2 separate regions of the Homo sapiens genome follow, and region 2 is linked to region 1. The links come from fine-mapping of genetic effects on gene expression. Tissue or cell type: cerebellum. Region 1 holds a variant in brackets; the other region holds the start of a gene. All regions are shown on one strand. Distances are between the middles of the regions.

Region 1 (8,169 bases):
AGGCAGGAGAATCGCTTGAACCCGGGAGGCGGAGATTGGGGTGAGCCGAGATCACACCAGCAACAACAACGACACACACACACATCAATAAATAAATGAGGAGGACGGAACAGCCACTCAGCAGCGGCTCGGTCGGCTCTCCCACCTCCCCAACCTCGCGGGGGCAGGAGAGTCCATGGGGGGGCCCCCAATCCCCGATGCCTGGTCAGCCAGGGTTTCCGTCCACCACAGCCTGGTGACTGAGGTCAGGGACCCCCAACTCACCCTACCCAGGAGCCCCTGAGGCCAAACCCCACCCACAGGGCCGCCACACACCCCTTCCACCAGTCCCGGGAGGCGCGTCAGATAAAAGCACAGCTCTCACTCCTGGGGAGACGACGGCCAGGCCCAGCCAGGGGTGGCTCTGCTGTGGTTTTGCTTCCCAGGCAGGTCTGAGTAACAGTGTGCAGGGAGGGCTGAACCCTACACCCGCCACAGCCTGGTGTCCACGGGTCACCCATTCACCACCCAACAGGGTCTCTGTGACCTGACAGAGGTCACAGAGCCTCAGTTTATCCCGAGGAAAATGGTGGGGCTGGGAGGGGCACGGGGCCAGCCTGCTGGGGAGATGCCACCATCTGGTCCTCCGGGGCTGGCAAGGGCGCGGGGCCACCCTGCTGGGGAGATGCCACCGTTCGGTCCTTCCTCTGCCCTGGCAGCCACACCTGCCTGCCCCGGCCACTCCGCCACATCTCTTCACCCCAACCCCGACTTCTGGAGCTTGGAGGAGACAGGGGCAGGGGCATCTGGGCCCAACCTGCCCAGGAGCTCCTGGCCGGGGGTGAGCCAGGTTTGGCCAGGGGTCAGGGAGGGACCCGAGGGACAGTGTGGCCCCTTTGGGGCTGGATGCTGGTCTGCTGGATGGCGGCGGCTGAAGCAACAGACGCTCACTCTCCCACAGCCTGGAGGCTGGAGTCCGAGACCATGCTGTGGGCAGGGCCGGCTCCTCCTGCGGCTGCTGTCCTTGGCCTGTAGACGCCACTGTCACCCCTCTGCATCTGTGTCCTCCTGTGGCCTCACCTAGTCCTAACCCCCTTCGAAAGGGCCCTTATCTCCAAATACAGTCACATTCTGAGGCACTTGGGGGGGTGGGTTAGGACTCTGAGATATGAATATGGGGACTCGGGGGTGGGTTAGGACTCTGAGATATGAATATGGGGGCACCAGAAGAAGCCCGTAAATGAGGCGGCTGGGGAGGCCGTGGGGGAGGGTCCAGAAAGAGGGGGCGGGAGGGACCATGGAGGGATCCAAGGAGCCGGGGCAGGAGAGCCCGTTGGGGGATCCCAGGCAGAGCCGGGAGGGACCATGAGGTGCCCCATGGAGAGGGGGCGGGAGAGTCCATGGGGGGGCGGTTTCCGGGGTGGGGGAGTGACCATGGGGTCCCCAGGGAGAGGGGGCGGGGGAGGCCCCAGGGAGAGGGGGCAGGAGAGTCCATGGGGGGGGGGGTTCCGGGGTGGGGGAGGGACCATGGGGTCCCCAGGGAGAGGGAGTGGGGGAGGCCTCAGGGAGAGGGGGCGGGAGAGACCCCGGGGGTCCCAGGGAGAAAGGGCGGTGCCCGCAGCCCGGGCACCTGCTGGGGACGGAGAGTTTGTGTCCCCATGGAGTTCAGACGCTGAGACCCAGTGGGGCCTTTGGGAGGTGACTGGGATGAGGTGAGGTCAGGAGCGGCGGAGCCCTCAGGAATGGGGTTAATGCCCTTGTAACAAGGACCCCGAGAGACCCCTCCACCTCCCACCAGGTGAGGACACAGGCAGAAGCAGGCGTCTGCACCCAGAAGTGGCCCCCGTGGAGCCCCATCCTGCCCAGCCCTTCCCTGGGACGTCCAGCCTCCAGAACCGAGAAACACACTCCCTCTGTCCCCGGCCACCACGTCCTCAGAATTTCTGTCACAGCCCAAGCACACTAGGACGCCCCCTCCCAAGCCTGTCCTGGGGGGCCCCTTCCCTTCCACCCCAACACCCCATTTCTCACTTGGAGCTCGTTCCACTCTCTGCCCCGGTCAGAATTCAGCCCTCAAACCTATGACAGACGTGTGACCGTGAGCCGCTAGCTGTGCCAGCTTGGGGGACTCCGGGGCGACGGCAGGGTGGGCCTCGGTCAGACGCCGTCCCCGCACCGTACCATGAGGAGGGCCCTCGGCCCTGAACTTCAGGCTGTCTCCGAGGGTGCCGGCGGCTGCAGTGTGTAAATGTCAGAGCCGGGGCTGAGGCCCGGGCAGCAGGGGACCCGGCCCTGGAGGGGATCGGCCCTGGGAGAGGCCTGGGGGACAGCAGCCCCTGGTGGAGTCAAACTCCATCCAGCCTGTGTCACTTAGAAATCCAAGGGTCCGAGAGTCCGAGATGTCCTTTGTAAATGTCAGTGGAATGACAAAAAGGGCCGCCCAGGACAGACACCTGAAGGTGGCAGCCTGTGAAGTCAGTGACCTTTGGGGTTCAGTGTAGGGTTCAGAGAAGGTGCGGAGGGCCTGGGGGAAGCTCCTGGGGGGAGGGAGTGAGGCTGCCCAGGCCTTTTCCAGCGCCTCCTCCCAGCCTGGGGACTCTGCCCCCACCTAAGCCAAACCCAGGCCACCCTGTCCACGGAACATCCTCACAGCAGCCGTAGCAGACACTCAGCCCTCAGAAAGCCACATCATCCTTAGGACCCCCTCCCCGTCCCCTGGGGTGAAGAGACGCGGGGGAAGGGCCGAGGGGAGGCAGGACAGAGGCAGCTCCCCGGCGGGGCGGCCCCGCTCCCCTCCCAGCACCATCATTTTCTGGGCTGATAAACTGAGCTTCATGAGCATCCCCTGTGGGTCACAGAGACTTGGTGCCCAGCCGGCCCCCGGACCCCCATCAGCCCCCTGCTCACTGCTACAGTGGCTGGTCCCGGGGCCTGTGCAGACAAACCCGGAACCCCTTGGTTGGGGGGTCACCTGAGACCCAGATTCCATTCTCGGAATCCCCACAGCAGCCCAGGCCCGTCACCTCTGAGCATGGGGGGAAGTACTGGCCCCAGGCCTCCTCAGCCCGAGCCACAGGTCATTGCCATGCCCACCTGCAGAAAGAGACGGCAGCTGGGGTCCATGCAGAGACCCTGGTGCTGCCGAGAGTAGGAGCGGCCGACCCCACTCTGCGGGGACAGCCCTCCCAGACCCATGCCTGGCTGTCCTCACAGCTGGACCCAAGGATGGGCAGGGGAGCTCCGAGACATTGCTGCTGCGCCTCGCCCCTGCCCTCCCGTGGTGGGTGAGATGCCCCGTCGGGCACTAATTAGAGCTCCAAGCTCAGAACCGACAGTCAGGGCAGCTCCAGCACAAACATCTCTAACCACACAGCATCTGTAACCACACAGCGTTTATGTTTAATGGGTTAGGCTGAAATTCCCAAAGTCTAGAACCCAGCTGAGCCATTATGCAAGCCAATCTGCGATGAGGTGTAAAGATCAGAGCCCGCTAGACACGGTGTGTCCTGTGACTGGGCGATGGGAGTGGGAGGCGCCTCCACGAACGGGGTTGGGACCCAGCAGCCACCAGGATGTCCTGGGAGCATGGCAGCCCCCAGGCCAGGTCCAGACGGAGGAACTGGGGTCAAACTCCAGGCTGTTGCAGAGCCTGCACTGGGGGTCCGGGCAGGAGGAATGGCAGCCCAAGGTCTGCCCGAGACGGGCAGGGGCCACTGGCACACGCCCCTCAACGCACCATCCCAAGCCCAGCCCAACTCGCCCGCGGCCTGCAACGCCCACTGCCCACCTACCTGCCCAGCCTGGGAACACTCCTACGCAGCCCTCAAAACCCACTCCCAGGATCTTCCTCTAGGAAGGAGATCTGGTCTCCTCCTCCTCCCTCCGGCATCTGCGGAGTAACTAGTGTGTGTCAGGGACCGCTTCAGATTCTCGGACATGAGAGTAAATGGACGGGGCCAGCTGTCAGCAGTGGGCACGGCAACAGTGAAGGACAAGCTCGGGACACGGCGAGCAGACGGGGACCTAGAGTGGGTGGTGCTTAGGAGCTGGAGGCTACAGGGTGGAGGGGCAGGGGTGCATCCAGCCCAGGCCAGGGCCCAGCAGGAGCGACGACACAGCAGTGGGGAGTCCTGAGGGCCCCAGACCCTGTCTCCTGTCAACCCCCTCAAAGCCCTGCCCCACAACCAGCCTGTATAATGCAAAACTACCAAAGGGACCTGCGGGGAAGGTGAGTGGCCCTCCCGGGGCTCCC[C/G]AGAACCCAGCAGGGGACCCCACATGCAGGAGGGCTTCCCTTGGTAGGCACACCTACACACACAGTAGAGCCTCACACCACATAAGGGCTGTGGACATTAACCTGTGCGCACAGTAGGGCCTCACGTCACGTGGGGCAGTGGGCGTTGGCCCGCGCGCACAGTAGGGCATTACGTGGGGCAGTGGGCGTTGGCCTGCGCGCGCAGTGGGGCCTCACATCACGCGGGCCTGTGGAAGTTGACCTGTGCGTAGAGTAGGACTCCTGATACACGGAGCCACCACCTAGCTGGCCTCACAGTCCATGCAGCCCTGAGACCCACCACGGAGCCATGGCCAGGCCCGGCTGGTGGGGGTGGAGGTGGGGGGTGGGGGGGTGGACGTGGGGGTTGGGGGTGAAGGTGCGGGTGGGGGCCTCCCGCCGGCCCCCTGCCTGCCCACCGCCAGCTGGCTGCAGACCTGGGCCCCGGGGAGCCTCGAGGCCAGGGCCACGCCAACTCGGCCATCCTGGCTCTCGTCCATGTCTGAATCGATCCACCAACGACTCGATCCATTAAGTCAGATCGGAATTCTTGGAAGCCAGCAGGAAAAGGAAGGCTCTGTGAACTGTCTGAGTCATTTTTTTTTAAACTAACATTGGGCGCCTCTCCTCTCCCAGCTGGGGGCTGGACACACGCTGTTCTGCTGTGTTCTGGAAGGTACCTCTGCCCCTGCTTGGGGAGGGGCCCAGACAGCCCTGAGCGTGGCAGGGGCTTCCCTTCGAGAGCTACAGTGACCCCATCCTTCCTTCCCTCCCTCCCTCCCCATGGCCACACCCCAGCTGCCACCCTGCAGAGTCCAGGCTGGGCCAGGTGGGCTGTGCTGACCGCAGCTGTTGAAAGCCTCATGCCAGCACCCCGAGATGGAGCCCCCCATCCTGGCAGCAATGGGCTAAATTCATGCTTGGCTGCTGTGAAACATTAGTTACCTCCATATCCTGGGCTCTGGGGTCTAGCTCCCACCAAGGGTGCGCTCCAGGAGAAATGAGAGAAAGGCAGCTGGCCCGTGGCCATGGGGTGGCCTTGAACCCAGGAGCCCCACAGGAGACTTCAGCCGGGTGCCATGAGAGGGAGGAGCAAACTGAGGCCGCCAGGACCTCTGCCCTTCCTTGGAGACTCTCTGCTTCAGTCCCCTCATCTGAGGGGCCACGGCTCTGTGGTGGGTCTCAGAGCTGCATGGACTGTGAGGCCAGCTAGGTGACAGCTCCCCGTATCAGGAGGCCCACTGTATGCACAGGTCAACTTCCACAGGCCCGCATGATGTGAGGCCCTACTGTGCACGCAGGTCAATGCCCACAGCCCCACGTGACGTGAGGTCCCACTGTGTGCACAGGTTAATGTCCACAACTCCCATGTGGTGTGAGGCCCCACTGTGTGCACAGGTAAATGTCCACAGCCCCACGTGACGTGAGGTCCCACTGTGTGCACAGGTTAATGTCCACAACTCCCATGTGGTGTGAGGCCCCACTGTGTGCACAGGTCAACACCCACAGCCTTTCAGGAGTAGGGGAATTCTCCCGGGGTGAGCCTGCTGGTTTAGACCAGTGGTTCTCAGCACGGCGGCCGGGGAGCCCCACCCTCCTTCCCTCACCCCTCCGACGGGCGTTCCCGGATGCTTCCACCAGGCCAGGCAGAGGGTCTTGCAAAACTGCAAAACACAGCCCCTCTTCTCACTGAGTTTTTAACGTTTTGAGAAATATAACCTTTTCCATAAAAGGACGTGTTATGTTAACACACAAAGGGCTTATTATTGTGGTTAAGTTAGTAAACAATTTTTTAAAATTTTTCATGTTAAATACTAAAAAAGTAAATAGCGAGAGAGAGAACCCAGGAGCAGAGGCTTTGGGCTTCGTCCGTCCGCACCAGCGTGAAGGGGCCCGAGGCCTGGAGGCGCAGCCGCTGTTCTGGAGGTTGTGGGGGAGCACGCCTCATCCCACACTCCGGAAGGGCATCCCACTACCCCAGGGCTCTGGCCACCTTTTGCCTGCTGGGCCTCCCGATGCCACCCACCCAAACCCCTGCAAAGCTCCGCACCCCTTTCCTCCCTGCCTGGCCACCAGCACCCCATCTACTGCCCCCTTCCAGCCTCGGCCTTTTGGACACCTCCACCTCGCGCCCGTCAGCTGCTTAAACACGCTAGGACCTCCAACTTGCCCCACACCTCGACACCCCAATATCCACAAGGACACTTGGGCTTCCCAGCTCCCCAGGCCCATGGCCACACAGAGGGCTCTCCACGCCACACCCAGGGCAGGTCTGCGGCCCTGGGACTCTGGCCCCACCCCTCCCCTCCCTCCCAGGCAGCACCCACCTGCAGGGACCTGGTGTCCCTGGGGCCAGCTGCCGAGGACCAACAAGGCTTAGGGCCAGTGACTGCGAGAGTCCCCACGGGGCTGTCCTGGCCCTGATCACAGCCCCTGCCCCGCCTCGGAGGAGCAAAGCCGTGAGTCCTCCCAGCCCACAGCCCTGGGCCTGGACAGGAGCCCTCGGGGGCACCCAGGCAGCAGCAGCCCACTCCGCCCCTGGGTGCCCCGGGGAGAAGGGTGCCCCAGCTCACCCCATGCACCTCCCTGCCCCACACCCATGCGGGTGGCTCTGCCCCTGTGGCTACAGGAAGCCGGTTATGGGAAAGCGGCTGCTTTAATAATAAATCGTTTAATTACAGAAGCCGGGAGCTCCTGCTAGGATCCAGCGGTGTGGAGTGCAGACTACCCACTGCTCCCACGCCTCGGGGTTCCCTCCACAGAGCGGGTGATGCTCGGGACAACACACAGGTACTTACGTGTCCTGCTGGGGACCCCACGACCACCCCAGACGGAGGCGGGCCAGGCCCAGGGCAGGGTGAGGGCAGCCGCGCTGCCACCGTCTAAGAGGGGAGGACGCCTGGGGGCAGCCTAGGGACGGCGTGAGAGGGGCCCAGGTAGAGCCTGGAACATTGGGGATGGCACGGCCTGGCTCCCCGAGCTCCTTTCTACTCAACAGGCAAGGCTGCGGTGATGCACTGTGGGGGGAGCCCCAGCCCCAACTCCCTGCCAAGCTCCAGGGGCGGGGTCAGGCAGGAAAGGCAGACTCGCCCTGGGCCAGCCGGATCGAGGCACGCAGCCACTCTCGCCCCTGACACCCACCGTGTGCGGCCCACGCCCTGCGGCCCGGGGCCCCGTCCACCCCAGCATCATCCCGGTGACGTCTGACACCTGCAGGCTGGCTTCAGAGTTCAGTGAAGGCTGCTGGGGACCCCAGGACCTTGAGCCGACCCACTCGGACTCCACAGCACCTGGCGGGGGGCCCACGCGAACCCCATGCCGCACTTGGACCCCAGCGTCCGTCCTGGCGCCCGCCTGGCCTGTGAACATGCCCCCACCCGTGGACACTGCTCCCTGGCCTTGGGCTCTGCCCTGACCCTCTCGTCTGTGGGCGAGAAGAGCCCAGAACAGACGCCTCAGACCCAGCTGGCGCTCGGAGACGGAGCCGAGTTGGGGGTAGTGTCTGCCCAGCCTGAGAGGGTGGCAAAGTTGTGGACGGTGGGAGGCTGCCCAGAGCTCCAGGGACTCCAGGAGGGAGGGAGGGTGGTGGTCTCTGTGGGCCGAGGCACGGCCCAGGAGGCGGGAAGGACGGAGGCAGCCCCCAGGCGGCCTTGGCAAACTGGAAATGAGGGAACCCCACAGCTCCGAGGGACAAAAGCCGCCTGAGGCGCCTCTGGTTTTCTGCGGCAGCCAAGGGAGTTTAATGCCTGGAAAATAAAACCCACCCTGACCCCCATCTCCATTCGACCTTTGTTTCCAGAAGCTTCCCGCGGGCCTCCTCCGGGCTCCAGGCTCTGCAGACTCTGTGGTCAGAGCCCAGGGCCAAAAAGTGGGCTGCGGGGGTTCTCTGCCCGGGAACCCAGTGACTTTCTAAGGAAAGC
Region 2 (8,169 bases), 970 kb before region 1:
TCACCTGCACCCTCAGGTGCTCAGACCCCCGCCCCAACCAGCCCAGGTACCCAGGGGCTCACCATGAGCATCCCGGTAGTAGGCATGGGTAACACTGCGGAACCGCTCCTGACCAGCTGTGTCCCACATCTGCAGCGACAGGCACTGGTCAGGCTGTCCAGCCCTTCCCTGGTGTCCCCTGTCCCCCAACTTGTCCTCTGCCAGTCACCTTACCTGCAGCTTCACCTTCACACCATCCACGTCCAGAACTTTGTTCTGAAACAGACAGAACCAGGCAGCTCTGGCATGGGCCCAGCCCAGCCTCTGGTCCCACTAGCTTCACTGCCTTCCTGTCCCCTGAGACCTCCCAGCTCCCAGGTCCAGCCCAGCCCCTGCAGGCTTCCCTTAAGCCAATTTGACCTCACCCACACCTGCAAGTGCAGGCCTCTCCCGGCAGCCTCTGCACTATTCCTGCTTAGAGCCTCTTACGCTGACTTATTTGAACTCATGACCCCACCAGGCCTCTTACTGACACTGCCTCGGTTTCCTCATCTGCAAATGGGTGCAGTAACTAACGAGCTGCAACGCCTCAGCCTTCCCAGTAGCTCTTTTTGCTAATTTGAAAGACTCAGGATGGCTTGAACCCAGAAGTTGGAGGTTGCAGTCCACCATGATCACCACTGCACTCCAGCCAGGGCGACAGAGTGAGACCCTGCTTCAAAAGAATAAAAAATTAAAGCCACTCCTTGCTGGGATTGTCAGGGCTGGGCCTGGGCCTGTCTGACCCAAGGCAGTAACCGCAGATCCCAGAACTGCCTGGCAGCGTCCCCAGCCGGGCCCTCCCAGTTAACGATTAGACGTAAGGCAGGGAGTGGTCTAGCCCCAGTCCCATCTGTTGGGGTGGGGGCGGGGGGCTTCAGCCGCAGTCTGAGGCCCTGGGCAGCTGGAACCTGTGCCACCTCCTTCAGCCTGAGCTCCTGCTGTCAGAGTGCTTCTGGGTCTCCCGGGAACCAGGCAGGGCCATCTGCTGGGCTGGGGAGGACACCGCCTTCCCTGGCACCCTGAACGAGAGTGCGAACCAAATGGCCTCACCTCTTACCACCTGCCCGAGAGCCAAGAGGGAGGTGGGGAAGTGGGGACCAGACAGGACTGGCCTGCCCCCCTCGGGCACTTCAGTCGTCACTCCATCCCAGAGGACTTGAGGGGACTTGGAACCCCCAGACTGGAGGGAGCCCCTTTTCCTGTCCCTGGAACAGCCCTTCCTCCATCCTCCCTCTAACTGGCTCTAATTAAAGGGTGAGAAAAATGCAAATTTAAGATTTGCTGAGGACAAGCCGGCACCTCAGCACGAGGAATTCCAGCTGGTGGGGGTGGGGGTGGGCGCTCCTCACCCAAGAGCAGGGTCCTCTCCCCTAGGCAAGCCCTGGAAACCCTCGCTCAGGCTCTGCAGGGAGCATGTGCTTCTAGGGCCCAGTAAGGCCTCTGTACCGAGGCAGCACTGCTGGCCCCAAGTGGACGTGGCCCTTGACTTCCTCTGACCCACCACCCTGTAGGCAACAGTGTCCGCCTCCCCCAAGGCACAGGATATGGTCCCTCGGTAATGCCAGCCCCTGGCATAGGGCAACTAACTATGCTTGTCGGGTGCAGCCACCAGCCCAGGTGTTGGAAGGTCGAGGCAGGCAGCTTCTGGGGTCCAGGCCTCGAGCCTGTTGGTACCATGGGGATCAGAGAGAACTTGCTGCTCGGGTACCGGCGGGACTCTGATGTGGGGCCAGGCCAGGGCCTCCACTCACCCGGAAGTCAATGCCTACGGTGGAGATGAAGGTCCCCGCCAGGAAAGCACCATCCTTGAATCGCACCAGCAGACAGGTCTTCCCCACACCCGAGTCCCCCACCAGCATGACCTAGGACAAGCAGGAGGGTTGGGGGGAGTCTGGTCTGCCCTGAGCTGGCCTGGTCAGAAGGGGGCTGCAGGTGAGGAGCAGGAGTGGAGGGAGGCAGCCCAGGCCTGCAGGCTCAGCGGGGCCAGGGACCCCGATGGGCTGGACACCCAGCGTATGCCTCTGAAAGGCTGGGGCTGCTCTGTCCTTCTGCACAGTGGCCGTCTCAGTCAGCGGGGAGTGAGGGCAGCCACCTGCATCCCGGACCCTCCCTAACGTCCATACCCCCACACGGTGGACAGCATCTGGGAGGGGAGCAGGTGGGGTGGCAGCTGGGTACCTCCTAAGAGACTTGGGGAGGCCTCTGCCGGGGGCTTCTCCACATCCCAGTAGGGACATGACCCCAGCAAGGCTCGAGGAATTTGCCCCATTAGGATCAGATCTCGATCTGAAGAGGGACCTGGGCCAAGTCTGAGGTTGGGGGGAGGTGCAAGTGGGCAGCAGTCAGGCCTTCTCCCCGAAACCTGTGCTACCAAACCCAAAATGGTCCTCCCAGCCCCCTGCCAAGTCCACACAGCCTCTGCCTTGGTCTGGAGTCCCAGGGTTCCCCATCCATCTGGCAAACCTCTTCCCCCCAGCAAAAAAAAAAAAAAAAAAAAAAGGCCCACAGCCGCTGGGTTGAGGGAGGGCAGCATACGGGAAATGGTGAGACCCCGGGCGGGGGCCAGGGCACTGGGGCGCGGGACCCCTTGTGCCACCATGCCGCCTGGGGGGTGGGGGACAGGCCCTGCCAGCTGTTGGATACCCCAGACCTGGGATGGACAGCTGTGTGTGCACGATGCACCGTGCAAGCCCCACGGGGTTCCTCCCGCGTCGGCTCCGCGCCCTGGGGCCGCGGGCCCTGCACCCCCTGTCCGACCCCCAACCCTTGGCTCAGGCCGGGCGCCACCTGCTGCGCTGGCCTGGGGGGCGGGTGCCTGGCTCACCTTGAAGGCGACGTCGTAGAAGTCGACACCGCCGCCAAGCGAGGGCCGGCCGGGCTGCAAGGGCCCGTTGGGCGGCGCGTCGGGGCCGGAAAGCGCAGTCCCGGAGCGCGCCGGTCGGGCCCCGTTGGCGGTGGGCAGCGTGGAGGCAGCGGGGGTGCTGGCCCCTTTGCTCTTGGGGGTCTTCTTCCTGGACATGGCGGGCGGGCGCTCAGTGTGCTCCCGCTGCAGCCGCCGTGCCCTGGGCCGTCCCGCACCCCGCGCCCGCCGAGCCCGACCCGGACCCGAACCCTTCCCCTGGCGGCGGCGGCGGCGGCGGCGGCGGCGGCGGCATCATCCCGGGCGCCCGGCTCGCGCCCCGCCCCCGCCGCTCCACGGGCGCGCAGCCACTCAGGCCCGGCCTCCCGCCGCCGCCGCCAATGCCGTGCGTGGGGCGGGGACATGCAAATACACCCCCGCTCGGCGGGGGGTGGGGGGCGGTCAGGAGGTCCGGGCCCCGTCCCGCCCCCGATCACGACCCCTGCCCGTGGCTGCCTTGGGGCCAGGAGCCAGCTGTGGGGTGACAGGCCTGGGCCAGGAGTCACCCCGGGATCCTGAATCCCCTCTGCTGGCTGCACACCACCCCAGCTCGGTGACCCCCAAACTGGACCGCCAGACCTGGGAGGAAGGGGTGTCCTGAGATGTGGGTGCTGGGGCAGAGGGCCCGCATGGACGGGCACCGCGGGCTTCTGTCTCCTTAGCCCCAGATGCCTAGCGCTTGGCCCGGTGCCCTTCACTGCTCCATCCCCTCCAGGGTAGGCGGGTCCAGGAAGCTCCAGCCCTGGCTTGGCAAACACACCAGGCTGCTGGGGCAGGCGCCCTGGGCTCAGGTGACAGCTGGTCACCGGGAGGACACAGCGGGCGCTGCGATCTCCCCCACAGCTTCTGCCTGCTGTGCACGCCTGGGGATCTGCGGGAAGGAGGAAGTCGCTGTGGCAGCCAGCCCCCGGCCCCCTGAGGGTCCCCTCCCACGGGACTCTGCCCTCAGGGTCTGAAAGGTGGAAAGCAGAGGCCCCTGCCCAGGCTGTGTGGCTGGCCCCTTGTCCTTCTCCTCCAGGTTCGGACCTTCAGGTGGCCAGGGCCGATTCTCCAAATCCTAAGCTGGTCCCTGGCAGACCCACCTCCCCAACCTGGGCTGCACTGGAGCTCTGTCACCCCCTCTCACAGAGAAGATGGGACTGCAGTGGTCAGAGCTGGGGCACAGTGGTCCAGAGGGGTGGTGTCCTTGGCATGCAGGGGCTTCTTGGTGTTTCTTTGGGAGCTGGAGAGATGACCCAGCTGTCCCCGGAGACCTGACAGCTGTCACCAGGACCTTGGGCCCTTCAGAGACCTGAGCCCTCCCAGCTGGCAGTGCCCAGAGTCCAAACAATTGGCTGCCTCTCGGGTCAGAGGCCTGAGAAAACACAGATGGGGGGCACTGCCCAGCAGAGTGATTCCTCGAGAGGGCCTGGCAGAGGCCGTGGAAGCCTGCCCTACAGCAAGCACTGTTGTGTGCCAGGCACACGACCTCTTCAAAGTTATCCTGCAAGGTGGGTACTGCCCTCAGTGTCCAGATGGGGAAACCGAGGCCCAGAAAGGCAAGGAGCCTGTGCAAGGTCAGCAGGCTAGGAAGGGCAGAGCTAGGATTTGTTCCTGTGATCTCCAGCTCCAGAGAACATAAACCGTCCCATGGCAGAAATCCCTGTAGACTTAATCCCCAGGAACCTGGCAGAGCTGGGGGTCAAACCCGGAAGCCCTCTCAGAACCCTTCCTTGTCTCACTCCTCTGGCCCCCCAGCTCTTCCAGACCAACCCCCAGTGTGTGTGCACTGGGCCTGGGTAGAGGCATTTAGCTTCTGCAGCTGCAGCCCTGGGGACTCCAGGTGTCCACCCGCGCTACAAGGCCTCTTTCAGGATGGCTGGCCCAGGGTCTGAGCTGGGGGCCTCAGCAGCTGCTGTGCACTGGCCCCAGGGTCCTGGGCAGTGGACTCCCAGTCCAGTGGACCCCGTCCTGCCAGCTGCTGCTCAGGTACCCCCAGGGCGCGGGCAGCAGGAGGAGTTGGGTGCAAGTAGGGCATCCTGCAGGGGGAGGAGTGCGGATGGGGCCCCCAGGAAGAGAAGGAGGCAGGCGCGCTGGAGAAAGTGGGAGGCCAGGCGGGGAGGGGAGCCTTGAGAGAGCAGAGGAAACGGGCTTGCGCTGGCAACCTTTAAAATTAGGAGAGTTTACATAAAAATCCAAGTCTCTGGTTTCTCTTGAAAATGGGGAGCTCTGGGTGCCTGCATCACAGACCCCTCTCTTGGCTTCCAGCAGGCCTCGGAATCTTTGATCATTATGTCTCTTGGTTGCTGTGTTTGCCATCTGTTTCACCCTCTGGAGTGTAAGCTCTCCGGGCACAGGAAGCAGCTTGTCTTGGTCAACTGCTGTCCCCAGCAGCCAGCTCTGGGCCTCCATAAGCAGTTATTAAATTGGTGAAAGAGGTGTGGTGGCTCACGCCTGTAATCCCAGCACTTTGGGAGGCTGAGCAGGCAGATCACTTGAGGCCAGGAGTTTGAGACCAGCCTGGCCAACATGGTGAAACCCCGTCTCTACTAAAAATACAAAAATTAGCTGGGCCTGGTGGCATACGCCTGTAATCCCAGCTACTCGGGAGGCTGAGGCAGGAGAATCGCTTGACCCCAGGAGGAGGAGGTTGCAGTGAGCTGAGATTGTGCTGTTGCATTCCAGCCTGGGTGACAGAGCGAGACTCTGGGGAAAAAAAAAAGAAAGAAAAGAAAAGAGAAAGAAATGTGACTTAGAAACACAGGCCTCACTTCAGGAGGACATGTCCTTGCTAACAAAGATTTAAGGCAAGTGTGATCAGTAGTGAGGGCAAGGCTTCTGGGGGAGGGAGGGTTTGCACTGGGCTTTGAGGATTGAGCTAGAGTCCGACACGAGAGAGAAAGACAGTCCCCAGGTGGAGGGAGTCAATATGCATAGGCTGAGAGTGCTAGGAGATGGGCACTTTGTGCCGAGGTGGCCAAAGTGTGGCCCAGTTCCTTGGAGGAAACGGGAGGTAATCAAGCTGGTAAGGTAGGATGGGGTCAGCTGGGAAGGGAAACCTGAGTGTTATTCCTAGGAGCTTGGAAATTGTACAGCGGGAAGTAGAGAGCTGTGCGTGGCTTTTGAGCAGAACAACAGAGGACGCTGTGCTACAGGAATATTGGGGACTGGCAGGAGGGGATGGATGGTGGAGCCTGTAGGCCTGGAGATGAGATTGATGGGGGTTGCAGTCACCCAGGGGAGGGATAATAGGAACAGAGAGGACCTTCAGGAAAGAAGCTGTAGGCCTGGAGGCAGGGAGGGGAGGGTCAGAGTCCATGCCCATGGGCAGAGACCAGTGGGATGCTGCAGTGGGTTAAAGATGGATTAAACCCCAGCACTTTGGGAGGCCGGGGCGGGCGGATCACCTGAGATCGGGAGTTCGAGACCAGCCTGGCCAACATGGAGAAACCCCGTCTCTACTAAAAATACAAAATTAGCCAGGTGTGGTGGCGGGCGCCTGTAGTCCCAGCTACTCAGGAGGCTGAGGCAGGAGAATCGCTTGAACCCAGGAGGCGGAGGTTGTGGTGAGCCGAGATCGCGCCATCGTACTCCAGCCTGGGCGACAAGAGCGAAACTTGGTCTCCACAAAAAAAAAAAAAAAAAAGGCCGGGCGCGGTGGCTCACGCCTGTAATCCCAGCAGCACTTTGGGAGGCCGAGGCAGGCAGACCACGAGGTCAGGAGATCAAGACCATCCTGGCTAACACAGTGAAACCCTGTCTCTACTAAAAATACAAAAAATTAGCCGGGTGTGGTGGCGGGCGCCTGTAGTCCCAGCTACTCGGGAGGCTGCGGCAGCAGAATGGCGTGAACCCGGGAGGTGGAACTTGCAGTGAGCGGAGATCGCACCACCACACTCCAGCCTGGGCGACGGAACAAGACTCCATCTCAAAAAACAACAACAACAACAACAAATAAAACTAGAAAAACTAGAACAGGCAGCCAGCGAGGGCAAGGCGGGGGCCGGCGAGGGCAAGGCGGGGGCCGGCGAGGGCAAGGCGGGGGCCGGCATGGTGGGAAAGTTCAGCAGGGAGGCCTTGGGATGTCCGGATTCTTGGCATCTTCAGACCTGGAGAAGAGAGGAGTCCTGTGGGCCAGGGCAGGTCCCTGAGACAGGGTCCGAGTTTGAGATGGGCCCTGGGAGCTGGGGGCGGAGAGTGAGGTCCGTGTTCCCCTGGGAGGGGTGCTACAGCCCCCCACCCTTCTGGTGCAGAGCTGGCTCTTCCAGGGAGGGGAAGGTCTCCACGGGTTCCTGTCCTCGAGCGGAGAGAGCGCCCTGGGTCTCCTTGGGGCCTTGCTCTGGGACTTTCGCTCCTGTTACCTTCTGACGGCCCGGCCCCCTGGCATCCTTACACCGTGCCCTCTAACTCCTGCCAGTTCCTTCTGACCGTCCTGGGTGTCTGGAAGGATGTGTGCTGTGAGCCCCCAGCCAAAACGACCCCTGGGAGCCATGGATCAGGACAGTCTCTTTCTGGCCCCCATTTTCCAGCCTCTTCCCTACACTCTGCCCCCAGAGTGGGGCCCTCGGGCTGGCCCTTGTGTGCCAGGAGAGGGGGCGCAGGCACGAGTGAGGCCTCCTCAGGCTTCCAGACTCTGCCTGGAGCCCCACCCTCAAGGGAGCCTGCCCTGGCTCCTCCTGCCCCACTTCTGGCTCCCTGGATGCTCTCCAGCCCTTCCCCAGCGGCTGCATGGCCGCTGTAGCAGCCTGGGAGCCTCCTGAGGACAGGGCCCTGTCCTGCCTACTCCTGTTCCCGCCAGGCACTCGAGCGAGAGCTCTGTGGCTGAGCAGCAGAGAGCTGGGTTGGACTTCAAGGGGCTCTTAGCAAGCCAGGGAGTGGCAAAGCCGCCACGGCCTGTGCCCCCAGGGCACCTCCCAAGACCCTCCTCTGGAGCTCAGCGGTCTGTGCCCTCCGCGGGGTCCCCGGCTTGCTATGTGCCCCTGGGCACGTGGCATTCCCTGTCTGGGCCTGCTCCCCTCTCCATGAAATGAGGGGGCAGGAGGAGCCGATCTCTGAGGTCCCTTCCAGCTCAAACACCTTATGTTCTATGAAATCCGTGTGAACGTTGCCATGGAGACGTTGGAGGAACTGCGGCAGCACTGAACGCAACTTCCACCCGAGAGAGGAGCACTGAGTCACCCCAGCACGTGGGTGACATCACAGGTAAGCTCTCTCCGGTGTCCAGGTGTGCAGCAGTCTGGTGTCCTCCTGAGAGGTCACCCCCCTTCAGC

The links. PIP is the estimated chance that this variant, and not a neighbour inherited with it, causes the effect.
Region 2: RAB26 starts here. The variant in region 1 is fine-mapped to the expression of RAB26 in cerebellum (GTEx, PIP 0.93).

The regions. Positions count from the first base shown.
Region 1 is chr16:1,171,376-1,179,544 of GRCh38, reverse strand. The region is part of intron 2 of CACNA1H (calcium voltage-gated channel subunit alpha1 H); the gene reads right to left. Among named protein-coding and RNA genes, the nearest start is that of CACNA1H, 22 kb to the right of the region's middle. RefSeq lists an enhancer at 6,257-6,758. The variant C/G (reference allele first, on the strand shown) is at 4,232.
Region 2 is chr16:2,143,655-2,151,823 of GRCh38, reverse strand. It overlaps RAB26 (RAB26, member RAS oncogene family), which reads right to left and starts at 3,199. Exons shown (of 9, transcript NM_014353.5): 1 at 2,846-3,199; 2 at 1,773-1,883; 3 at 214-255; 4 at 63-129. The coding sequence starts at 3,040. RefSeq lists enhancers at 339-890, 891-1,440, 1,441-1,992, 1,993-2,544, 2,545-3,096 and 4 more and silencers at 2,639-2,708, 2,729-2,858, 2,869-3,038, 3,129-3,218, 3,229-3,498 and 1 more.